Linked DNA regions of Homo sapiens. The protein of the gene in region 5 purifies or fractionates together with the protein of the main gene of each other region. This does not show direct contact. Each region holds a gene or a part of one and is shown on either strand. Other genes may lie near its edges.

Evidence for each region.
Region 1: the proteins of TMEM72 (region 5) and LCLAT1 purify together in Homo sapiens (affinity purification with mass spectrometry; one large-scale study listed by BioGRID and IntAct). This does not show direct contact.
Region 2: the proteins of TMEM72 (region 5) and PTDSS2 purify together in Homo sapiens (affinity purification with mass spectrometry; one large-scale study listed by BioGRID and IntAct). This does not show direct contact.
Region 3: the proteins of TMEM72 (region 5) and KDELR2 purify together in Homo sapiens (affinity purification with mass spectrometry; one large-scale study listed by BioGRID and IntAct). This does not show direct contact.
Region 4: the proteins of TMEM72 (region 5) and DHRS7B purify together in Homo sapiens (affinity purification with mass spectrometry; one large-scale study listed by BioGRID and IntAct). This does not show direct contact.
Region 6: the proteins of TMEM72 (region 5) and SURF4 purify together in Homo sapiens (affinity purification with mass spectrometry; one large-scale study listed by BioGRID and IntAct). This does not show direct contact.
Region 7: the proteins of TMEM72 (region 5) and DNAJC11 purify together in Homo sapiens (affinity purification with mass spectrometry; one large-scale study listed by BioGRID and IntAct). This does not show direct contact.

The regions. Positions count from the first base shown.
Region 1 is NC_000002.12:30,453,746-30,457,245, reverse strand, and holds part of LCLAT1 (lysocardiolipin acyltransferase 1), read right to left. Parts: intron 1-3,500. UniProt on the Homo sapiens protein: Exhibits acyl-CoA:lysocardiolipin acyltransferase (ALCAT) activity; catalyzes the reacylation of lyso-cardiolipin to cardiolipin (CL), a key step in CL remodeling.
Region 2 is NC_000011.10:470,779-474,278, forward strand, and holds part of PTDSS2 (phosphatidylserine synthase 2), read left to right. Parts: intron 1-3,116; coding exon 3,117-3,199; intron 3,200-3,500. UniProt on the Homo sapiens protein: Catalyzes a base-exchange reaction in which the polar head group of phosphatidylethanolamine (PE) or phosphatidylcholine (PC) is replaced by L-serine. Catalyzes the conversion of phosphatatidylethanolamine and does not act on phosphatidylcholine.
Region 3 is NC_000007.14:6,470,653-6,474,152, forward strand, and holds part of KDELR2 (ER lumen protein-retaining receptor 2), read right to left. Parts: intron 1-3,500. UniProt on the Homo sapiens protein: Membrane receptor that binds the K-D-E-L sequence motif in the C-terminal part of endoplasmic reticulum resident proteins and maintains their localization in that compartment by participating to their vesicle-mediated recycling back from the Golgi.
Region 4 is NC_000017.11:21,175,464-21,178,963, forward strand, and holds part of DHRS7B (dehydrogenase/reductase SDR family member 7B), read left to right. Parts: intron 1-2,769; coding exon 2,770-2,879; intron 2,880-3,500.
Region 5 is NC_000010.11:44,921,337-44,924,836, reverse strand, and holds part of TMEM72 (transmembrane protein 72), read right to left. Parts: intron 1,757-3,500; exon of another isoform or gene 1,611-1,756; intron 1-1,610.
Region 6 is NC_000009.12:133,369,561-133,373,060, forward strand, and holds part of SURF4 (surfeit locus protein 4), read right to left. Parts: exon of another isoform or gene 1,362-3,500; coding exon of another isoform or gene 1,316-1,361; intron 1-1,315. UniProt on the Homo sapiens protein: Endoplasmic reticulum cargo receptor that mediates the export of lipoproteins by recruiting cargos into COPII vesicles to facilitate their secretion.
Region 7 is NC_000001.11:6,635,817-6,639,316, forward strand, and holds part of DNAJC11 (dnaJ homolog subfamily C member 11), read right to left. Parts: intron 2,549-3,500; coding exon 2,479-2,548; intron 1,689-2,478; coding exon 1,631-1,688; intron 1,525-1,630; coding exon 1,382-1,524; intron 431-1,381; coding exon 301-430; intron 1-300.

The DNA.
Region 1 (3,500 bases), on a different chromosome or scaffold from region 5:
CTAAAGAAAACTGGAGTTAATCCCCTCCATAAAACTAATCTTTCACAAAGATAAATTTTTCTCTACCAGGTACTAAGCCAGAAATTATATTATTAATTTATATCTCAATGCAGAAATAAAGTAATTCACTATACTGTCAAACCTCTTAAGAAATCTAAAACTAAAGAGAGTTTGGTTTTACTGAGCAATGACCCACAGAATTCTCTCTGGAGAAATAAAGACATAGTTAAGCTGTCACTTCCAAGTAACTAACCCAAAACTAGCTTCCTTCAGTGTCTTACTGGCTAATTCATGCATCTCAATTTCCACCCTGTATTTTCTTCCATAAAGAAGTAATCCCTGTCCAACTTTCGCTTCCAGCAAGATCAAGTAAATGTAGTTTTTCCTACTGCTCTAGCTAAGTACAACCAAAAATCCTGGCCATTATAGGTAAACAAATATGGGAAGACTCTGGACTCTGAAGATACAGATAAGGCAAACCAGGTAGGGACCTTGGGACCCATGGAAAATATGGTGGTGAGTTCCCTGGGTTTTCTTTTTGCCTCATCGTATACCACAGACAACCAGCTTAAAAACAAAAACAAAAAAACAAAAAACAAACCCCTGCTCTCCTAAGCCAAAGAAATGAGCAATAAACAACATGCCCTCCAGCCAATATCACAGAAAAAAACCGTGGCCCACCCCCACCCACAACAGCAAAAGCCATGTAGGGAGCCTAAGTTTCCACCCTTACAAGGCTGCAATGTTGTTCAGGCTCCCAGGTGTCTCTACCCCTTATCCTTTCAGGGGTGATATTGGAGAAGTCTAGACTTCCCTGCCAGGTGGTAATAAGACCCCCTTCCCCTGCCAGGGAGTATCTGTGGAGACCACCTGGAGAGCCTGGATTCCTCCTCCCACCTGGCAGTAATGAGACACTCCTTCTCATCCCCACTGGCGTGGTATCAGAGGAGGCCTAGCAGAGAGTCAGAACTTTCACCTCCGCCCAGGGGTAAGAAGGCCATCCCCTCCCAGTGGTGTCAGTAGAGTCCTAAAGAGGGGCTGACACTCCCACACTTGCCCAGTAGTAATGAGGACACCCACTTTGTGTGTCAATGGATCAGTTCCTCAAAAGCACAAACTACCACAACTCACCCAAAATTAAATGGATTATGTGAATAGCCCTAATAACTGTTAAAGAAATTGAATAAAGCCTTCGAAAAAGAAATCTGGCCCAGAACATTTCATTAAAGAATTCTACCAATGTTTAAAGAATTAAGATCAATTCACACAATCTCTTCCAGAAAACAGAAGCGTAGGGAGCACTTCCAATTTTTTTTTTTTTTTTTTTTTTTTTTTTGATATAGGGTCTCACTCCGTCACCCAGGCTGGAGTTGAGTGGCATGATCACAGCTCACTGCAGCCTCAACCTCCCAGGCTCAAGTGATCCTCCTGCCGCAGCCTCCCAAGTAGCTAGGACTATAGGCACATGCCACCACATCTGGCTAACTTTTTAATTTTTTTTTATAGAGTCAGGGCCTCCCTGTGTTCCCAGGCTGGTCTTCAACTTCTGGGATGAAGCAATCCTCCCAGAGGATGGTTTCAGGCTCCCAGAGTCCTGGGATTACAGGCGTGAGCCACCACACCCAGCCTAAGACAAAGATCTAACTGCAGACAGAAGTGGAGAAGGAAGGCCATAACGTGACCATAGAGGGAGAGATTAATGATGTAGCCATAAAACAAGGAATGCCATCAGCCACCAGAAGCTAGAAGAGGCAAGGAGCAGATTCTCCCCTAGATCTTCCAGAGGTGGTGTGGCCCTCTGACACCGTGATCTTGGCTGACTGATAATGATTTCAGAATTCTGGCCTCCAGAACGCTGAGAAATAAATGCCTGTCATTTTAAGTCACGATGTCTGCAGTAGTTTGTTATGGCAGCCAGAGGAAGCTAGTATAAATATCTCCCCATCTCCAAGTAAATATGTATGCAAAAGGCATACATATTTGACTAGTCTGAAGTACAAATACAAAAGAGAAAATCAGATACAATTTCAGAGTTCCTCATTCAAAATGAGAACGTAACACTCCTAAATTTTTTTACAGTTAAAGAAAGTATAGATAAAAAGAGAAATAAATACGGCTTTAGAAATTATATCCAATTATATCCACTGGATCCAATTATATCCACTGTATACTCAGTTCCCTGAAGATTAGCCTACTCAACAGACAAGAACTGTTTATCAAGTAGCCTAGCAAAAGAAGACTCAATCTTGAGTAACTCCGACTTCTAGTATATTCTTCTCTGAAGGAAAGAGAAGCTAAATTATATAGGTTTCATTACTACCATAAATAAATTCAACAAAATAAGGTCACTCTGGCACTCCTTGGAGTCCTCTAGATTATTTCCATCCTGCTTCTCCACTGCCTTCCCATTCTTAGTGAACAAAGCAAACATAATTCTTCCTTTAATTTAATCAATTGGTCTTAATGAATCACCATGTTAAAAATGTAAACAACCTAGGGCCACGTGCAGTGGCTCACGCCTGTAATCACAGCACTTTGGGAGGTCGAAGAGGGAGAATCACTTGAGCTCAGGAGTTCGGGACCAGCCCAGGCAACACAACAATATCTCTACAAAAAAAAAAAAAAATTAGCCAGACGCGGTGGCACATGCCTGTAGTACCAGCTACTCTGGGAAGCTTGAGATGGGAGGATCACTTGAGTCCATGCATTCAAGGTTACAGTGAGCTGTGATCAGGCTACTGCAATCCAGTCTGGGCAACAGAGTGAGACCCTGTCTCTATTAAAAAATAAAAATAAAAAATAAAAAAACCTAAGTTTAAATCTGCAGTTACTCTCATTAAGAAGTATGTTAACCCAGTAATTCACACTGTCCAGGTTGAGCACTACATCATAAAATTTCATTATGTGTATGATTATAACACAAACAATAAACCTGGTAATATATTTTACTGAATTTTGAAATGATATAATGGAACATGCAAGACTATCAAAACAATCATTATAACACATGAAAGGGGAAAAGGCAAAAAGGATGTCTCATTTAAATCTCCCACATTATAGACAGACTCACCCTAAGTAGCTACCGTAAGTTACATTCAGCATGGATATTCAGAAACTTTGGACATAACTTGTAATACAAGGCATACTCATTGAAATAATCCCTTACACTTAATGCCACACAAGTACAGTATATTTTAAATTTACAGTACATTAAAACAGGCATTATAGCATAGTAATTAAGAGCACAGACTCTGAAACTAGACTGCGTAGGTTCAAATCCATGCCCCGTACCTTCTTTGGGCTTCTGTTTCCTCATAAGTAAAATGAGGATAATAACAGTATTTGTATTTACTTCACAGTGGAAGCTGGGAGGGTTAAAGGAGTTAAAAACTTAAAGCACTTAGAACAGAACTCAGTATACACCTGGCACTCACACGTTATTAAAAGAGAGGGTCACCATTACTACCTACGGTCTTCATAATAGTTTCATAGCCGTCATG
Region 2 (3,500 bases), on a different chromosome or scaffold from region 5:
GGGGTTTCACCATGTTGGTCAGGCTGGTCTCGAACTCCTGACCTTGTGATCCGCCTGCCTCAGCCTCCCAAAGTGCTGGGATTACAGGCGTGAGCCACCGCACCCAGCCAGCACCGGCTTATTAATGGTGAGATGTTAATGGGAAAACTGGGCCTGTGAGATATGGGAGCTTTTACTATTTTTACAATAATTCTGTAAATCTAAAACCATTCTAAAATTAAAAATTTATTTTTAAAATGCAATATATTTGTTTTCCTTTTAAAGCACTTCCCTCATTCTTACCCAACGGGACACACCTTCTCAAGTACTTAAGTAATTCTTTTTTTTTTTTTTTTTTGAGACTGAGTCTTGCTGTCACCCAGGCTGGAGTGCAGTGGCGCGATCTCAGCTCACTGCAACCTCTACCTCCCAGATTCAAGTGATTCTCCTACTTCAGCCTCCCGAGTAGCTGGGATTACAGGCGTCTGCCACCACACCTGGCTAATTTCTTATATTTTTAGTAGAGACAGGAGTTTCATGTCGGCCAGGCTGGTCTCGAACTCCTGACCTTTAATGATCCACCTACCTCAGCCTCCCAAAGTGCTAAGATTACAGGTGTGAACCACTGTGCCCGGCAAGTAATTCTTATGAACAAATTAGCCTTATAAAGTTGTCATAAACATTATGTGATGTGTGGCCAGGTTAGAGTCCTGTGTGACCCGGTCTGAGCTGGCCTCTGGGCAGCATGCCGTGTGGGGGCTGCCACAAGCTGATTCAGGGAGCACCGGCCTGGGGTGACGCACGCCTGTCGGGCGGAGGGCGGCCTGGGGTGACACGGATGGTGGCCTGGGATGACACGCGCCTGTCAGGCGGAGGGCGGCCTGGGGTGACACGCACCTGTCTGGTGGATGGCGGCCTGGGGTGACGCGCGCCTGTCGGGCGGATGGTGGCCTGGGGTGACGTGGATGGCGGCCTGGGGTGACGCAGATGGTGGCCTGGGGTGACGCGGATGGCGGCCTGGGGTGACGCAGATGGTGGCCTGGGGTGACGTGGATGGCGGCCTGGGGTGACGCGGATGGTGGCCTGGGGTGACGCGGATGGTGGCCTGGGGTGACGCGCACCTGTCTGGTGGATGGCGGCCTGGGGTGACGCGCACCTGTCGGGCAGATGGTGGCCTGGGGTGACGTGGATGGCGGCCTGGGGTGATGCAGATGGCGGCCTGGGGTGACGCGGATGGCGGCCTGGGGTGACGCGGATGGCGGCCTGGGGTGATGCGCGCCTGTCGGGCGGATGGTGGCCTGGGGTAACGCGGATGGCGGCCTGGGGTGACACAGATGGTAGCCTGGGGTGACGCGGATGGCGGCCTGGGGTGACGTGCGCCTGCACCGGGAGCAGCTTCCCTTGGCCAGTGCCCATGTTCCTCTTTTCATTTTTATCTTTTCTGGGGAGGGTAGGGGGACGTTTTACTGTCTTTCCACTGAATGTTATGACCCTCCCCACGCCCCTTGGAGGCACAGCTGAGGTGGGGCCTATGTCTGGCTCCAGGGGGCCCTGAAAGGTACTTTTTACACCTCCCACCCCTCAGCACTGAGAGACCTCGGGAGGGGTACCGGTGACAGGGACGCGGGCCCCACCTTGCTGAACCCAGCAGCGAGGGCATCTCTGCCTCTGTCCCTGGAGGCTGACAGCGGTAGTGTGGGAGCTGGGGCCTGGGTGGAGACCGGGTCAGAAACTCAGGTTTCGCCTGGGTGGGCCATGAATGTCCTGCCGAGGGTGAGACCCTCAGGGCTCTGGGTGGAGAGCAGCACCTGCCCAGAAGCAGTAGACCCTTGTCCCGGCTGCACCAGGGGCCAGCGACCTTGTGCCCTCCTCCATCCTGCAAGCCTCGGGCGGTGCTTGGCCTCACCTGCCTCTGTCTACTCAGGACTTTGAGGCCAGGCACTCCTGCAGGCAGAGAGGGGAATTTCTGAGACTGAAGTTGTTACTGGGTATTTTTTAACAGCGCTGTCTTAAAAAATAGATAGCGTGTCTCTGTGGCCCCGTCTATTCTTGCGGCCACACGAACGTGCGTGTGTGTGTGCAGCTTCCCTCACGGCAGCCAAAACCCAGAGGCCGCCCAGCGTGCGAACACGCCAAGGTGTGACTGTCGGCACGGCACTGCCGAGCCGTGGGAGGGACTGGGTGGTGCAGCGGCCAGTGGATCTCAGACCCTGAGCTGAGCACGACTGGAGAGGATGGGTGCATCCGAGCGTCTGCAGAGCACAGAGCGCGTCCGCAGAGCGGGTCCACACCTTGGGTGCAGCGAGCGGATGTGAGCAGTGTGCCTGTGACCAGGGCTGTCTGCACATCCGCCGGCCTAAGCTGCTGCTCACCGAAACCCACTGGGACTCTGGCTGAGGCCGGCCCCAAGGAGCTTTGCCGAGGAGGGAGCACCTTGCCCCTGCCCAGAGCGGTCCCTCGCATCCTCCTTCCCGTGAACCTGCATCTTTGGTTGCAGTTACAGCTCTCACGCTTCCATCTTATGAATCACAGGAGTCCCGTTGGTTTTGGATGAGTTGACACCAAAAAGACACAGGAGCTCTCTAGAGACACTTCCTGGGGGTCCTGCCGCGTTGGAGCAGGGAGGCAGTAGCTCCTGACGCCTTCCCTCCTACGTGGGCTTTGTGATCACTGATGGTCACATGCGGGGCATTCGGTGGCCTCTGTGTAGAGCCAGTGTCTTCCTGATGTGACACTGGGAACCACCAGCAGCCCAAGCACAGGGACCTTCTCCTGGCCACTGGGCGGGCTGCAAATGTGAGGGCGAATGTTGGGTGCAGGGTGGTGGAGGTAGCTGGGCCTTCCCTGCCGCGGAGGAGGCAAATGTGAGCGCGAATGTCCAGCCCAGGGTGGTGGAGGTAGCTGGGCCTTCCCTGCCGCGGAGGCGGCAAATGTGAGGGCGAATGTCCGGCCCAGGGTGGTGGAGGTAGCTGGGCTTTCCCCGCGGCGGAGTCGCCCAGCTCTGCCCGAGGCCCCTTCCTCCCGCCCCAGCATCAGGGGCTGTTCCACAATGGGTGTCTGGGGGTCCCTGCAGCCTCCCACCTCCCTCCTGGGAGAAGCCTGCACACACTGAGGGGCTGTTTGTTCTTTATTTGCAGAGGTATTGTGGCCAGTATTTTGGTTTTCTTATGTTTTGGAGTCACACAAGCTAAAGACGGGCCATTTTCCAGACCTCATCCAGGTAACTTGCCATTTCCTTTTCCGTGTGCCCCTGTGGCATTTCTGTTCTGAGCGGCCACTCTGTGTCTGTGCTGCTGGGTGTGAGTGTCCTGTCCTCCCCTCCGCCTGGCCCCTCCCCGAGGCCTCCGAGGCCACTTCCCACATGGACAAGGGCGTGGGGTTCTGAGCTGGCCGTGTGCTCCTCCTCCAACCACCGAGGGTCTCTCCAGGCCTTCTCTGGCCCTTTCACTCTTCCCTGTCCAGGGCTCTCCAGCCCTTCTCTTCCTGCTTCTGCCTCCTCTTTCCACAGACCAGAGTGGCCG
Region 3 (3,500 bases), on a different chromosome or scaffold from region 5:
TATTGTTTGTTTTTGAACTTTATGGTAGTAGGAGGTACTCCTTATAATTTTTGTTTGTAAACATATACTTCTTGATTTAATCCGCCACCACTATGACCACCATCATGCACGGATTCACCAAAAACTGGATAAATAATTATGTTGCTTTTATTAATCTTTCTTAAATGTATAGCTCATGTTGGCTGGGCATGGTGGCTCACGCCTGTAATCCTAGCACTCTGGGAGGCCGAGGCAGGCGGATCATGAGGTCAGGAGATCGAGACCATCCTGGCTAACATGGTGAAACCCTATCTCTACTAAAAAAAATACAAAAAATTAGCCGGGCGTGGTGGCGGGTGCCTATAGTTCCAGCTACTCAGGAGGCTGAGGCAGGAGAATGGTGTGAACCCAGGAGGCGGAGCTTGCAGTGTGCCGAGATCTCGCCACTGCACTCCAGCCTGGGTGACAGACTGACTCTGTCTCAAAAAAAATAAAAAATAAATAAATAAATAAATAAATAAATGTATAGCTCACATTTGTTTCGGTTTTTTTTTTTTTTTTTTTTTTTGAGATGGAGTCTCGCTCTGTCGCCCAGGCTGGAGTGCAGTGGCACAATCTCGGCTCACTGCAACCTCCGCCTCCCAGGTTCAAGCGATTCTCCTGCCTCAACCTCCCAAGTAGCTGGGATTACAAGCGCCTGCCACCATGCCCAGCTAATTTTTATATTTGTAGTAGAGACGGGGTTTCCATGTTGGTCAGGCTGGTCTCGAACTCTTGACCTCAGGTGATCTGCCTGCCTCGGCTTCCCAAAGTGCTGGGATTACAGGCGTGAGCCACAGCACCCGGCCTGTTTTGGGTCTTTATTTAAAAGTCTGGTGGTGTTTTGGGGACCGGAAATATGCTGTAGGAACTTAACTCTTACTCATGTCAATTAGCCTATGGTAAAACTGGCTTCAGTGTATGTTGTTTCACTTCAAGTTGCAGTGTGTGTTGTTTCACTTCAAGAACCTACCAATGACATTAAGTGAGGGCCTAGTGTTAATAATTTGTTCCTTTTTATAGCTGCGTCCATTGGTGGTCCATTGTATGGATGCACCAGTTTGTTTATTCACTCACCAGTTGAAGGACAGGTGGTTTCTAATTTGGGAGGACAGTGGATAAAGCTGCTGTGAACATTTGCGTACAAGTGTTTGTGTGAATGTAAGTTTTCACTTCTCTTGGGTATGTACTTAGGGGTGGGACTGCTGGGTCATATGTTAAGTGTAAGTTTAACTTTTTTTTTTTTTTTGAAACGGAGCCTTGCTCTGTCACCAGGCTGGAGTGCAGTGGAGCAATCTCGGCTCACTGCAACCTCCGCTTCCCGGGTTCAAGCAATTCTCCTGCCTCAGCCTCCCCAGTAGCTGAGATTACAGGCGCATGCCGCCACACCCAGCTAATTTTTAGTAGAGATGGGGTTTCACCATGTTGGCCAGGATGGTCTCGATCTCCTCACCATGTATGTGAATAAATACAAAACAAAATCTACATGCATAAACAAGACACACATCCATCTACACATGCACTGAGCCCCCTCAGCGCATCTAGCCAAGGCTCACAGCAGAGAGGCCTCTCACCAGGACCTAGACTGTGGCCAGCTCAACATTAATAAAAACTTGATGGGCGTTATTTCCACTAAGGCCTTAGCAGCACCTGGAGAAGAACAGCTGCTTCTCTCCTCTCACCAGCACACAGAAGTTAAAGTAAAAAGACACGAGCACCTCGGGTCTCACGCCAGACTTTCAGGACATCGTGCTTAGAAACTACAACCAAGCAAGCATGGATTCCTCTGAAACCTGGGCATCCTGAGGGGGAGAGAGGATTCTTGCTCACACACCTCTAATGCCTGCAGTTTTAACTTGCCTAGACAAGTGGGGACCTAACCATTTTTAAGTAAGCTCATTATTTCCTGAATACTAGGTTCCCATCATTTGGTAATGAAGAATCCATTATAAGTGACTCAAATTTGCTTTTTAGTAAAGACCAGACTCACATACTGCTTTGTCTCCTTTCAACAGTGCTTATGAAAATGCTCTTGAACACAAAATGTTGGGGGGAGGTTGTTTAGGTGCCATACCAATAGGATTCAGTTGAAATATTACTTCCTTGGGTATGCTAATAACCAAATGGCCTAGAATAGTGCCTGGTGCACAGGTGCTCAGTATTTGTAGAAAGAAGGAAAGAAAGAAAGAAATCAGACTCCTATTACATATCCTGAGAGCCCCTGTTCTTTTTTTTTTTTTTTTTTTTCAGACAGGATCCTGCTCTGTCACCCAGGCTGCCAGGCTGGAGGGCAGTGGTGCAATTACGGCTCACTGCAGCTTCAACCTCCAGGGCTCAAGCGATCCTACCACCTTACCCTCCTGAGTAGTTGGGACTACAGGAGTATGCCACCATGCCTGGCTAATTTTTGTATTTTTTTTTTTTTTTTTTTTTTAGAGACAGGGGTCTAACTATGTTGCTCAGGCTGGTCTCGGATTCCTTGGCTCAAGCAATCCACCCACCTTGGCCTCCCAAAGTGCTGGGATTACAGGCGGGAGCTACTGGGCCTGTTTCATGTTTTTTATATCCATAGGTTCGCAACTCTTATACTTTTCCTTTGTGGCACCCATCATAAATCGCAGTCATTTGTACTGCCATGATCTGTGTACTCTCCCACACCAGCCTAGAGACTTCTGCTTATTTTCTGCCGCATCCTCAGTTCCCAGCTCTGTAGGTGTTCACAAGCATGAATTCAACACTGTGCGAAAGAACTGAAGCTCACGTAGTCCACAACTTCCCCCAGTGTGGGGTGTGTGCCACCAGTGCTACACAAAGTGTTAGGTGGTGTGCAAACATTTTGTATTTTAATAGTTATACACTAGTTTTAATGTGAATTAGAAAAAATATAAGAAAGACAACAAAGGTGTTATAGATACTAATAATTAGGACAAGTTGAAAGGTTTAAAAAAATACGTTACTAAGTAAATGATGGTATAGAGATCATTTAAGCACGGCAAATGTAATAAAAATGACACACACACAACAGTTTAAGTAAAACTGACTCAGTGGCAAAGAAAAAAGATAGAAGCCTATAGACAGTTCCTCACACAGCAGCGAAATGAGACACTGCAACTAGGAGTCCTGCTTTCGTTCCTTGTTATGTACCAACTTGCTGGATTTCTCTGGGGACTCTGTAATTTCCCACGGCTTGAAAATATAATAGTTACCGCTCTTACTTACAGAGTTATCAAGAGCTTTAGATTTATCATACTTAAGGAACCTAAAATAAAAAAGTTCTAACTTCAAAGTATTTTAATTAACTACTGTTTTGAAACCAAAAATGTATGCTTACTGATAGCTCGTTTAGTCCCAGTTATATATACAAGGTGGTCTGAAAGTTTTAAAGTCAAGAACAGCATATTAAGACATTATTTTTGGAGCATTTTAATTAAAAATACACAGCTGACATAAATTAAGTGTCCATAGACCTGTGCACTGTAGAT
Region 4 (3,500 bases), on a different chromosome or scaffold from region 5:
CATGAACCAGGAGCTAGGGTGCCACCTAATCACCTGGGCCTCTAAGATTCGGTCTGGAACCAAGTCAGTGGCTCACTGGTGTCAGGTCAGGGTCAGCCAGGGGCCAAGGTATCCTGTGCAGATCTGCTGGTGAGCACTTAAGGGAGACTATGCCTCAGGTGAGGACAGGAGTGCCTCTTTAAACCAGCATGTGGCCAGGTGCAGTGGCTCATGCCTGTAATCCCAGCACTTTTGGAGGCCCAGGCAGGAGGATCGCTTGAGTTCAGGAGTTCTAGAGCAGCCTGGGCAACATGGCGAAACCTCATCTCTACAAAAGTTAGCCAAGCATGGTGGCATGTGCCTGTAGTCCCGGCAACTTGGAAGCCTGAGGTGGAGGCTCGCTTGAGCCTGGGAGGTTGAGGCTGCAGAGAGCCATGATGACACTACTGCATTCTAGCCTGGGTGCAGAGCGAGACCCTGTATCAAAAAAAAAAAAAAAAAAAGTAAAAAACTATGTTTCAGTTTTCATCATCAGTTTTTAGAACATTATTATTTACACATATTTTTATTTTTTGAGACAGGTCTTGCTCTGTCACCCAGGCTGGAGTACAGTGGTGTGATCATGGCTCACTTGACTTCCCAGGCTCAAGGGATCCTCCCACCTTAGCCTCCTGAGTAGCTGGGACTACAGGCATGCGCCACCACACCTGGCTAATTTTTTATTTTTTGTAGAGACAAGATTCCTATGTTTCCCAGGCTGGTCTCAAACTTCTGGGCTCAAGCGATCCTTCTGCCTCAGCTTCCCATAATGCTGAGATTACAGGCATGAGCCACTATGCCCGGCCAGAACATTTTTACAAAGTAGTTCAGAAATATGGCCAGGCACAGTGGCTCATGCCTGTAATCTCAGCATTTTGGGAAGTCATGGCAGGAAGATCGCTTGAGCCCAGGAATTTGACACCAGCCTGGGCAACATGGCAAAATCTCCATCTCTACAAAAATACAAAAATTAGCCAGCCATGGTGGCGAGTATCTGTGGTCCCACCTACTCTGCAGGCTGAGGTGGAAGGATCACTGGAACCCAGGAGTTCGAGGCTACAGTGAACTATAATTGTGCCACTGCACTCCAGCCTGAGCAACAGAGTAAGACCCTGTCTCTAAAAAAAATATTTTTAATAAATAGAAATACAAAAATGACAATTGACACCGCTGTAGTGCTGTTTATCAAACACTGTGGTAAGAGATTACCTACCTTAACTCATTCAATCTCACGGTCACACCCCGAGGGACTGAATGAGTTAAGGTAGGTAGTCTCTTACTACCGTGTTTGATAGATAAAAAGCATCCTAAATAAGAGGAAAGTCAGAAACAAAGAGGTTCTAACTTACTGGAGTTGGAAGTCTAGCTCAAGTCCACTCTCTTGGCTGCTGGGCTGTCCTGCTTTTCATAAGCTGTATGTACATTTTTGGGGCACTGAACATTTACATAGGATATGTTGCAGGGGAGGGTAAGCAAGAAGCAACGACGCCACCCTCTGCCTCCTCTCCTCCCATCACTCCGTTTCCTTTCTGACTCCTCATAGAGTAGTCCTCCACCCCCAGTTCTCATGGTTTACCCTGCTGCGTCCAGGGGGTTTCTCGTCAGGCCCTCCTGCTTAGCCACAGGAGAATTACCTGTGACCCTTGCTGGGCCCCCCACTCAAGGCTGATCACGGCCTTCCCTGGGATTTGATCAGAGCTGGGAAGAGACAAGACAAAACTGTGCATGTGAGCTCTGGGGCCTGCCCGCGTGTGAGAGCACCCAGGCACGTGAGAGCACCCGGGCAGCCAGCACTTGGGTCCCTCCTAGGTTTCGGCCATCCGGCTCTCCTCTTCATTCTTGAACTTCCCCACAATCCCTCTGGCAAATTCTCTTTTTGCTTTGCCCCAGTGTGAGTTTAGTTTCTGTTTCTTGCCACCAAAAGAATATAGAGCACGTGTCTGACTAGCTTTGGACTGTCCCTGCTGTGGTCGTAGTTGAAGTCCGCATCGATTGTTACCTGGAATAGTGTGGTGGGCTTGGTGGAGCCTGCTTTCCTCCAGTGTCCCCACTCCCTCCCGCCCAGCAGGACTGAGCCTTTTCAAAGGCAGGCACCCTTAATAGTCCTGCGTGTGGCAGGTGCTTGCGTGCACTGACTTGACCCCTCCCCAGCCAGTGAGGTTGTTAGACCCTCCACCTTCTGTCCCATCTCTATCTGCCTGTGGCCCTTCAGGCACTCTGCTCCCTCTGCCTCAAGCACTCCCTGGGAAACAGCCCATCAGATCTGGGAAGGGCCTCGGTCCCCTGCCCCAGCTTTTCTACAGGACTGTGTGAGTATTTCCAGGAGAGCTGTGCCTGGGTAGTGCCACCACACAGTCTTGGCAGGGCACAGCACCATAATAGCTGGCCCTCATTGACCTTGCCAATCAGGACAAGACCCTGCCTGAGTGACCTTGGTGAGCTCCCTCAGCTGTGAAGATAGGTGATGCTCACAGCTGATCCAGGTGAACAGGAACATCATGGGGTGTTCTGAGCATGATACTTAACACATCTGTCCACCTCGGCCCTCCTTTCTCTTTGCCCTGTGGATGTTTGTAGCACTGGGCGTGAGCCCGGCATTGGGCCCTAGCTCCCAGCTTCATGCTGGGCCACACAGCAGGGGCCAACACAGACCTGTGAAGGGTGTGAAGCAGCAAACAGCAACGCTGGGTGAATTTAAACTGAACGGCACTGAGGAAGAATGGCTGTCAAGGCTCTTTTCTCTTCCCTTAGAATGTGCAAAAGTCTTCTATGCTGCGGGTGCTAAACTGGTGCTCTGTGGCCGGAATGGTGGGGCCCTAGAAGAGCTCATCAGAGAACTCACCGCTTCTCATGCCACCAAGGTGAGCCAGGGGCGTGCTTTCCATGGGGAAGGAGTGCAGGCCGTCTTCTGTAGGCACTGAGGAGATAGTGGCCCACTCCTGGACTGCTGAGCTGTAGGACATCCATGCGTCACACTGTCCCAGGGAAGGCAGCAGGTCTCCATAGCGAACCGGGCCCACTGCATAGGGAGAGAGAACTGTCCAGTGGTTTACATCCTGATGCCCCTACTGGCTAGCACTGTGAGTTGAGAAAGTTCTCTTTTCTCCCTTTCCTTTTACCTGGCTAAGCTCTACTTACTGGGTGGGAGTGGGGGATGGTGATAACTTTAAAAGGTGTTTTTTTTTTTTTTTTTGGGACACGGAGTCTCGCTCTGTCACCCAGGCTGGAGTGCAATGGCCCAATCTCGGTTCACTGCAATCTCTGCCCCCTGGGTTCAAGCGATTCTTCCGCCTCAGCCTCCTGAGTAGCTGGGATTACAGGTGCACACCACCACACTCAGCTGATTTTTGTATTTTTTGTAGAGACGTGGTTTCACCATATTGACCAGGCTGGACTCCTGATCTCAGATGATCTGCCCGCCTCAGCCTCCCAAAGTGCTGGGATTACAGGCGTGAGCCACCAGTACAGCCCTTGTTTTATTT
Region 5 (3,500 bases):
GGAATGCCACCTGGCGGGAGGAGGAGAGTGTGGGGAGCCAGGAGTATGGCTCCTCAATTTACCCAAGGCGGAAGAGGATCAGTGGGGCGCTCATGGGAGGCTGTAAAGCCCTTTGATATCCAGGCCAACGGGTCACCGCTTTCTGCTCAGTCCTCCCACTTTTGGGGTTCGTGTTCCTGGATGCAGAGCATGCCAGGTTGAAACAACACGGACTCGCACCGAGTCCCTCCTCTGTCCCCTGCTCTGTTTGCCTCTGGTCTCAATGTTCAGGCAGCTCTGCTGGGAGCGGCAGGCCCACCCTCCTTGGGGGGCGGCTCCTGGCCGCTTCTCCGAGGCCCACCTGGTCTTCTGTGGTTACCGGTTGGGCCAGGCACTGGGCTCATGGCTGTGGTATGCTTAGTCCAGCAGGAGAGATGTGATGTGGACTGAGAAAAGTGCATTCAGCGAGGGCAGTAACCCAAGCTGGACGAGGGACTCACCCAGGAGCTCTGGGGCCAGACAGGAGGGGCCACTCGTGGGACTATCAGGGAAGATGAATAACGATGAAGGTAGAGTGGACTAGGAAAGCAGCAGGAATAGACCTGTGCAGATGGAGGGGCCAGGCACTGCAGGGTGTGGGGGCCCCTAACAGCAGAAGCAGGGGCACAGTCGGGGGCAATGGGCAGTGCATGTGGATCAAGGCGACTGTGGGGTTCTTAAATATTGGGCTCTGCAGCGTGAGCAGAAGGGACTCGTGTTTAGATTGGTATTTCAGAAAGCTCCCTGACCCCGTGCAGATGGTGAGAGACTTCAGTGATATTTGGTGGTGGCTGAGGGACAGAGACCAGCTCCAGGTGCTCCTGGCCACTCCCTCTCCCAGCACAGGGTATCTGCTAGTTTCTTTGTTGACTTGGGCTTGAAGCACAGTTCTGGCTGTGGCTCCTGGTGGTGTGGTGCAGGTGGCTTTACTGTCCAGTGGCACAGCAGGGCGCTTGGCATAGAGGCCCAGAAGAGTGGAGGGTCTGTTCTGTCTGGGGACCCAGAGAAGGAGGCTTCCCAGGCATAAAGCAGAAGGCATGCCCTGCCATTGCATGTTGATGTTTGGACTTTATCTGGGCAGTAGGGGGGCAGAGGTGTGGGCTGGCCAGGAGGTGTCTGGGATTGGAAGCTTCCTGGGCATGTCAGCCCTGTTGCCCCTCACTCAGGTGCCACCACACGCCATGTAGACAGTAGGCCCTCTCCATACGTCTTGTTTCCTCTGCACATCTCCCAAGTGGGAACTGCCAACTCTAAGGTCTCCCAGTTTTCTCAGCGATGTGCTGGCTGCCATCTCTCAGGAAAATTGGCTAAGAATGGTTTTGCTGTGAAGACACACCTGCTAATCCCTGAGGAGTGAGACCGACATATTGTGAGGAAGCCCAAGCCAGCCTTGTAGAGAGACTTGTAAAAAGAGAGAGGGAGAAATAAGAGTGAGAGGGAGAAATGAGAGTGAGAGAGAGAAAGAGAGAAAGGAAGAGAAAGAGAGAGAGAGAGAGAGAGAGAAAAAGAGAGAGAGAGAGAGGCACAACAGCCCCAGCTGGTTCAGCATTGCACAGGACAAATGATGGAAGAAGTTATCTTTGACATTCCAGCTCCAGCAGATGTGACATAGACTGGAAGTGATGGACCCAGACAACAATCAGAACCAAAGCACCAGATGAGCCACCTCAGCCACGTGAGCCATGCCAGCCACCCTACCTGTGACCCCATCTGTGGCCCCAGTTATCATGGAGTAGAGGTGAGCCGCCTCCACTGAGTTCTGCCAGAATTTCCGAATCACAAAGTTTTGAGTATAATCAAATGATTGTAGCCTTACATCACTACGTTTTAGAGTGGGCTGTTATGCAGCCATGCAAGGTTAACTGGAAAAGCAGCTAATTCAGTCATCTAGCCACCTGAGGTTTTTGGCATAGAAGTCTCTGTGTCTGGCCTGACGCCTTAGAGTAAACATTATATTGTGACTCCTCAGGAGTAAGCATTTCTGGGTCCTGCAGCACCTGCCCCATAGCCTTGGAGATTCAGGCTCCTAGGAATACAGATGGTGTCTGGGGACTTCCACTGGGTCATGGAATCCTATTGGTGGTTTTATAACTTAAGACTTCATAGAGGATCTGTGGAGGAGAATCCTGTATCATCCAAAGCAGGTCCCTCCCACAGTTGCATTTTGCAAACATTCCCAGTAGAAAAAGTAAAGAAAGCAAGAAGTGAGATTCCTTGCTGCAGGAATTTTGTGAACCGTATCCAACACTCACCCCAGAGAGCCATGTTGGGACTGGCTGTGGAAGCTCCTAGCCTGGTGTGCTAACTGGACTGTACTGGGAACAAAATATTTTTGGAAGGTATCACAGTTCCACATGACATAGATATAGGACCCCAAAGTGTTTTCACACAGGGCCTGGAGTTTCCCAAAAGTTTTTTTTCCAGGGGACTGTTCTCCAGAATTGGCAGGAGGTGAACATGAAGTGTGGCCTGAAATTTAGTGGGGGCTTGAATGAAGAATGGGATTGTCACAGGTAAGAAGGAGCTCCTCTCCAGTCTGCTGAGCGTCTGTTCCCGGAGACTGCACAGGTGGGCCCCCGCCCTCTCAAAGGCCTCACTTCAACCTGTGGATGAGGACAGCCCACTCCTTGTTTTGTGGAATTGGACCTTAGGTTTCTGCCAGGTTTCAGATTTAGGCGGGGCTCTCTGTTAAACACAAAGAAGTTATGGCACCCGGATAACTAGGAGCAGAGTGGGCCCAGAAGGACACCAGGGCTCAAAATTAGGGAGGCACACCTCCTAAAATTACAGAGGTGCTCATTCATTAAGGAGGTGTTCTCCCTAAGACTAAGAAGATATTTGCCATTAAATTAAGGAGGTGTTCTACAATGAAGGAGGTGCTCCTCTTAAAATTAAGGGGGCCCTCATTGTAATTTAATGTGGCCTTCAGTCTAAGCCCAAGGTGGTACTCCCTCCCTCAGGCGCAGTGTAGGCCCTTCGTGGGCCCTGAGAGTGGTAGCTCTGGCCCTGGCATCTAGAGATTTGGGAGGCCCAGAGTCTGAGGGCTTCTAGCTCCTCTTGGAATTTAGCCTGCGCTCTGGCCTTCCATACTTCTCACAGGGCAGTGGGGCTGGTGTCTTGGAAGCTCTGCCTTCACAGGGTGCTAGTCCAGTGTGGAAGTGGTTGGCCTGAATCAGCAACTCACTGGAACAGATACCCCCAGGGCATTACCCTGAGCTGGGACCAGGGACTGAAGAGCTGATTTTTGGATTAGCTGATCAATGATCAGGAGCCAATCAATGGAGACAAACAATGGGACAAAGGCCCTGCTACCCGCAGAATCAGAGCCTCATGACACCAAATTCTCTACAAGAAATAATCGCCCTGAGATGTGCTTCAGTCCGGCTGTGCTGTCTTTCCTGCCCAGGTGGAGGGGCAAGGGAACACTGAACAGCACTGCTTGACACGGCCATTAGTGGCCTTTGACTCCTTCCATCCCTCCC
Region 6 (3,500 bases), on a different chromosome or scaffold from region 5:
CCAATGCAGAGAACCAGCACAAGATGCCCATGTGCACAGTGTGACGCAACCTGCATCACACTGGGTGGTGGGAAAGGTGACGCCACACACCCTCCCCAGGTTCTGCCTCATGGCCCCGTTGCTCTCTAAATGCCCAGCAACAGTGTAATCACCCATATTCCATGGAAGAGAGAAAGCACACCACCGTGGCACACGATGTGCCACTGCTCTCAAGGAATGGCCTCACATCGTGGCCCAGCTGGGAAGCCCCAGCAAGGACACAAGCCTTTATCTCATCTGAACCTGGGGAAAAGCAACCACTGGGAAGGAAGAGCTCAACAGGAGGCTGTCCAGACCTCTGAGATGAGACGGAGCCGTGGTGGGACTCCCAGGGCAGGGTGTGGGTGTGGGGCGTGGACCCCAACAGCAGCAGAGAGGTAGACTGCAATCCATACCCAAGACAGACACCAGAGGTGTTCTGACTTGCTTCTAAAATGAGAGCTGTGAGCCACTCACTGGCCTGAGATGAGCAAACCAGCCCAGCCATGGGCTGCGGTCTAAGCCTCCCCCAGTTGCAGGACCTGCATTTAACATGCTCATCTACGTGCACAGCCCACGAGATTGAGGCAGTGTTTAAAAGTCTCTTTGAATGAGTCTGCGACTCTTAATTTGAGTGTCTGGGTCAAGAGGATTAAAGAGCAAAAAAGAGAGAGAAGGTGGGACAGGCAATTCACACCTCCTTCCCTGCGCAAACATGGTGACGAAACAGACACAGCTCTTGGCTTTGGGGAAAAATATGCAAAAATCTAGGTACTGCCTTCTGAACTGAGCACACCTACTGCTTGGCTGTCCTGGTTTTCAAAGGCAAGCCTGGTCCACACTGAAGGCTGAAGTCAGGCTGATGCAGTCTCCTCTAAACTGGCCACCATTTAATGAGCATCTGTTTGGACTGAACACTGAAAAAGCCACGTTTAAAGACAAGGCCCAACATTAACCTTATTTCCTACATGCATGTTGGTCACAACTACTTCAACTTGGCCACTGGAACCATGTCATGCCACTCTAGAACACGTCCCAGAGCCAGTGTCCCCTCAGCACAGCAGAGAAGAGCCCTCAACACAGGCAGGACACACAGCACCCCAGGACAGACAAGAGCAGCCGCACTGCAGGCACTAAGGCCATTGCTGGTAGCCAGCACACAGGTGACCTGTGTAAACACGGCGAGCACATAAAACTTGTGACAGTCCCCCTCCCCCCCATTAGAGAACTGCGACAGCAGAGCCAGAGGTGGCTGTTGACCTGGCAGGCTGCAGGAAGAAGATGACAGTTAGCTCACCTCTGTGGCCAAGCTTCTCATTAAGTCTCTCCGAGAACCGCGCCATCAAGCAGGATATGGTTCATAAGCAGTGACAGCATCTGAGGGGCTTAACAGGAAGACTGATATTTCTCTCAAAGGGGTGGTTATTTTAGACGACTGAAGGGGATTTTAGAAACGTAATTAATTATATCCACCCTGAGATGACTTCCTGGGCATCCAGTGATCACTGTCACAGCCACCTGCAGCTCCCACGCCACACAGAAAACTCCACTTTCTCTTCACACTCAGGACAGAAAGAAATTGAGGAAAGCAGCTTGCAAATTCGTGGTGAATGTGAACATCGACGAAAAAGGCAGGTCAGATTTCCTTGATCACCAAGGACTGGGGCTGCCTTGTTCAAAGCCCAACTCAGGTCCCACACATCCTAGAAACAAGCACCTGCGGCCCAGCGGCTTCCCTCACATCAGCCTGTCAGAGCTGGCTCGAGCTCACTGGCTCACTGCAGCTCCAGAACTTCCCCGAGCCCCGCTCCCATGCTGCTCTATAGGTTCACACTGCACCCTGCAGGGCCAGAAAGGATGTCGCCAGCCCAATGTGGGAGATGATGGCCTGGCTTTACTAAAAAACTGTGTGATCAAAATCCCAACTATAGGAAAGACGTAACTGAGAACGACTGGGCCCCATGTTCTGGGAGGAGCCCCGCTAACCACAACCTCCTCTGCTCCTCGCCCGCACTCCCCTGAAGAGTGAGTTTTAACCTCCCGTTAAGATCATCACACAAAGAAAAGTGAGTCAGCTCCTCTTTGCCTTCTCTCCCCACTCCTTCATGATATAGGGCAGGGTATGACAGAGCCTGCCACTGTCACCAGGACTTTGCCACACCAGTCACCAGCATGGTGTTCATCGGGACCCTCACAGTGCCTGTGCCACCTGCAAGTTCAGGGGTCCTCAGGCCTATCCTTGCTTCCCCAGCACTTCAACTAGGGCCGAGGCCAGCTCCTAGGGCCCAGGACTAGCTCTGCCACTCTTGAGGACAGGTTAAAAACACCAAAGGTCACACTGGAGAGGAAGGCCCCATGCAGCTTTTCTGTCACCTTGGTGATGAGCCACCAGGCAGAACCCATTAAGTGCTAATATTGCTGTTTATGGGTATAAACTGCTTAGAAGCTACATTTTACAGAGTGTCTAATAGGCAATGAGGAGCAGCTGCAGGCATGGACATTAGTTTGGATTGCTGAGTTCATTAGTTTCTGGACCCTTCCCATGGCTTCCAAATGCCAAGCTCCTGCATAGAGCACGTCTCAGCAGTTTCTACAGAGCATGGCTCCTGGGAGCAAGAGGACACTGTCCCTGGCTGCCAGAGCAAGCAGCTTGATGCCAGAGGCAGAGAGACAAGAGATGCAACTGTGGGGAGCCTGCCAGCAGAAACTAACCAGACTGCTCGTCCCCGTGGACCAGCCTCTGCAGGCCAGAAGGAAAGATCAGTCAACCAAGCAGTGAGGAACCCAGCCTTTGGGGTAACAGGATGCGGACTCAGTCTCCAGGCCACCACAAGCCAGTGCGGCCAGCCAACCTCCCTCTGCCCATCTGAAGATGGTGACGCTCTGGCCAACCTCCTACAGTCAAGAAGTTCACAAAAGGAATGTCTATCATGGACCCGGCCCAGTGAAAGACTTAATGTCATTGTCATAATACTGGAAGACACTGGGCCTGGGAAACTAAGCTTACTTAGGTCTTGCTTTCAGCAGCCCACACTTTCTGGTCAAATCTTGTCACTTCAGTTTTGCTCTTGTTTTCTGAAGATGTGAAAAAATGGATGTGTCACTTTATCTGATCAGTGACTTCCATGGTAATCCTCTATCGGCTTCAAATTAGGTCATTTTCATGTAAAAGCCTGGTCTGGCAGCTTTAAGTACTATGTGAATAAAGAGAAACAAAGCCCCACCTGGGCTTGGTCAGATTCTGTCCACAAGAAGCCATATTTTGACTTCGAACCCTGTTTACTTGCCTGCATCTGTCTGATTGGGGTTTGGGCGAGTACAAGTAGCTGCCCTCCCAAGCTGCCCACAAAAGGGCATGGAAGCTCCCACAGCCATGCTCTGCCACCACCTAGACGGACTCTTAAGGAGATCATCTGACGGCGGCAGCCTGCGCTGCCTTACAGATATGGTGCCTTACAGATATGGTCCTAACCCACTTGGGT
Region 7 (3,500 bases), on a different chromosome or scaffold from region 5:
AGCACCCGCTGCTGAAAATCAACTGCTGCTGGAACGTAGAGGTCTGCTTTCATCCCCCGCCACTCAAGCCGCAGTTTCCAACGCGCTCACTCTAATTCTACCTGTGAAAGGGCCCCAGCCCCCCTTTTAGGGCACAAATCATGGGCTCTGAGTGAATCATGGGTCAAGGGCTAGTTGGCGTCTCTGCTCCCAGGTGGGCAGCTGAGGAAGGTGGAAGGTGGCTGGCAGCCCACACACTGAGCAGCCGCTTCGAGGTCCCCGCCCCCGTTAGCTGGTGACTGCGAAGGGACGGCTACTCACACTGCTTTGGTATCCGGAGGGCCTCACTGTCCAGCACCATCACCTGATGCAGGACGCCCCGGAACTGATAGAGCACTTTCAGGTTCTTCTCTTCCCCCACACACGGGTCATAAAAGCCAGGCAGCCCAGCCTGTAACAAACAAATTGCTACTCTCAATACTCCAGACGGTCTAAGACCAGCACTCCTCCTCACTACCACCGGAGGGGCAGTGTGCACAGGCTCTGACATTCCCTGGGGAGATGCAAACTTTGGGGCATGAAGAAAAAGAAACAAGAATTTGAAAAAGTTGCCAAGACTCGCTTCTTAATAAAGGCCCTATCCTCACACTAAGACAGGGCCACCAGATGACTTCTAGGGTGCCAGGAACTCTCTGGCCTGAGCTAACCTGCATTTTCATCCTTCTGTATGGTCCATGCCCCAGGCCCCAGAGGCAAGACTCACACATGTTACAAGTGACCTCATGATCTTTCTGGAATGAGGCAAAAATAAACAGAATCAAATGCCATGAAGGCAGGCGTGTGTTCTGTTTGCTGGTGTGACTGGCACACACCAGGGGCTCAGTAAATCCTTACTGAGTGGTGAAAGAAATGACTGAATGAAGAGAATAGCTCCAACGTGGGTACTACTCAGGAGCTGGGCAGCATCCCACACAGTAGATGCTGATGACGGCAAAGATCCCACTTTAAGGGGCCAGGCTGTCCTTGTCAGACTGAACCTATTCTTCACACCACTGTTTGTTTGTTTGTTTTGAGACAGGGTCTTGCTCTGTCACCCAGGCTGGAGTGCAGTGGCACAATCACAGCTCACTGTAGCCTCAACCTCCTGGGCTCAACCAATCCTTCCGCTTCAGCCTCCCGAACAGCTGGGACAACAGGTGTGTGTCACCATGCCCAGCTGATTTTTTCTCTTTTTTGTAGAGATAGGGTTTTGCCATGTTGCCTAGGCTGATCTTGAACTCCTGGGCTCAAGCAATCCGCCCACCTTGGCCTTCCAAAGTGCTAGGATTATAGGCCTGAGTCACCGCGCCCAGCCTGTTCAAATCTGTGAGCACATAGCATGTGGTGGCTGGTGCTGCTGTACCTTGGAGGCCTCCGTGAGGATGAGCTTCGAGTCCTTCACCAGGCACTGCAGGGGCACAGTCACGTCAATCACCTTCACCTTCTCGCTCTTCCTGCTCTTGTCATTGACAAACTTCCCGTACCAGGCATTGACGATGATGAGGCCTAAGGACAGACTCCGAGTAGAGGAAGGCCTCCTCCAGGCACCTCCTTGTGTGGCTTAGAGACCCCCAGCGCCCACCCTGGACCAAGAGAGGACACATGTTCTCACCCATTCTGGACTCTTCTGCCTCAATTATCCTTCGGACAGATTCCTGCATCAGCCGGACCTGCCAGAGAACAAGGATGACACAGTCAGGGCCCTGCCAGGCCTGTTCCACCTCTGGTGAGAGGGCCACAGGCAGGCAGTCTTGTCCACGTCAACATACTTGCTCAGGGCCTGGAAAGGAAGGGAGTGGGCACCCTGACAGCTCTGCTACCCGAGTGGCTCACTCTGAAACTCCTAGACCTAGGGCAGGCAGCTCTGGGTCAGAAGGTGAGAAGCACCTGAAACGGCATGACCCTCCGGTGGCCACCGGTGGGAGCTCCCTTTCTAGGGATCATTAATGCGTGGGTGGGATTTGTTGACCCAATAAAAAAACAATGCGTTGTCAGCTTTAAAAATAAAGAGATTTCACAGGAGAAGCTGGAATCCCAGCTCCTCTTGAGAAAGGACCTGTGTTCTCCTGTGGTGCCATTCTGCTGGGCATAGCTGTGCCGCCCCCTCAGACAGGCATGTGCTCGCCAGGCCGCGCACACGGCCCATGGCCACCTGGCAGTATGCTCGCCACATACCCAGGAAGCCTGCTCCCTCCTGCTCAGTAAAAGGCAGAACACTCAGAGGGAAGAAAAAGAGGCCAATACTCACCACTTTAAAAAAGCCCTTGTTAGGCCTTTGGAGGGTAATTATCTTCAGGGCAGGGACTGCAGAGCCCAGTGTCGCATCCCACAATAAAGACTAAGTGGAGAGCCAAGTTGTTGGAGAAGAGAAGTCTGACCTCTAAGGCCCTGAGACCAACATGTGGGGTGTGGAGTGTGTCCCCTACAGCCCTCGCTTGGGAACGGTGGGGCAGCACTCACAGCGGACTCCGCCTCTTGCTTCTTCTGCAGCACATCGGTGGCGGCGCTTTCCCTCTGCTTCTCCAATTCCCTTACGCGAGAGGAACACAAGCCCCACGTTAGCGCGGCGCTGCCCAGCTTCCAGCCAACACAGCCCCTCCCGTGCTGGACCCGAGCCCAGCAAACAGTCTGTGATCTTACTGGAGTTCAGTTGTAGAACTTTAAAAAATATTCCCACGACAGTCTCAGGCAAGTCTGTTAGTCACAGGCTGGCAGCTTTCATTTTATCCTTAGATGGCTCTGCCCCACCTCCTCACCAAGCTGACGGGACACCGACTGTCAGTCTCTTTGGAAAGAAGACCCCACCACAGGAGAATTTCAGGAGATCCCACCAACCTTGTGGGATTATTATTTTTTTAATTTTAATTTTAAGATAGAGATGGGGGTCTCACTATATTGCCCAGGCTAGTCTCGAACTCCTGGGCTCAAGTGATCCTACTGTCTCGGCCTCCCGAAGTGCTAGGGTTACAGGCGTGAGTTGTTAAATAACACTTTTGGTAGGAACAACTAATACCACTTTAGACACACAGATCCGCTTTCCTGTAACAAAGTATGGGCCTTGGGGTCAGCATATGCCTGTCCTCCCTTCTGAGAGAAGGCTGGGCCAGCACATGTCTTGTTCTAAGCCTCAAGCCTCCTAGGGAATTAGGATTCTGAGTCCAAAGGCCAGACGGGCCCAGAAGAGGAGATTCATTCCTTTATCTGAGATTCTCTAAGTGCAATGCTTTACTAAATGAGATATTATAAAGTAACAAATCTATACCAGCTCTCAGTTTTCTGTAGAGATGCTTGCACTAATAATTTAGGTTTCACGGCATGCCCCAATGGATTATCTAAGAAACTGCAAAAACGTTGTGTTTCTGTGACTTTCAAGACTCTAGTTAACGCAGGCCCCTCACATACGGATCCAGAACGCATTCCTCTTAAACTCAGCGCTGGGAAAGGAGAAAGGAAAACTTCTTCTTTCTTGAGGCCATGGTTTA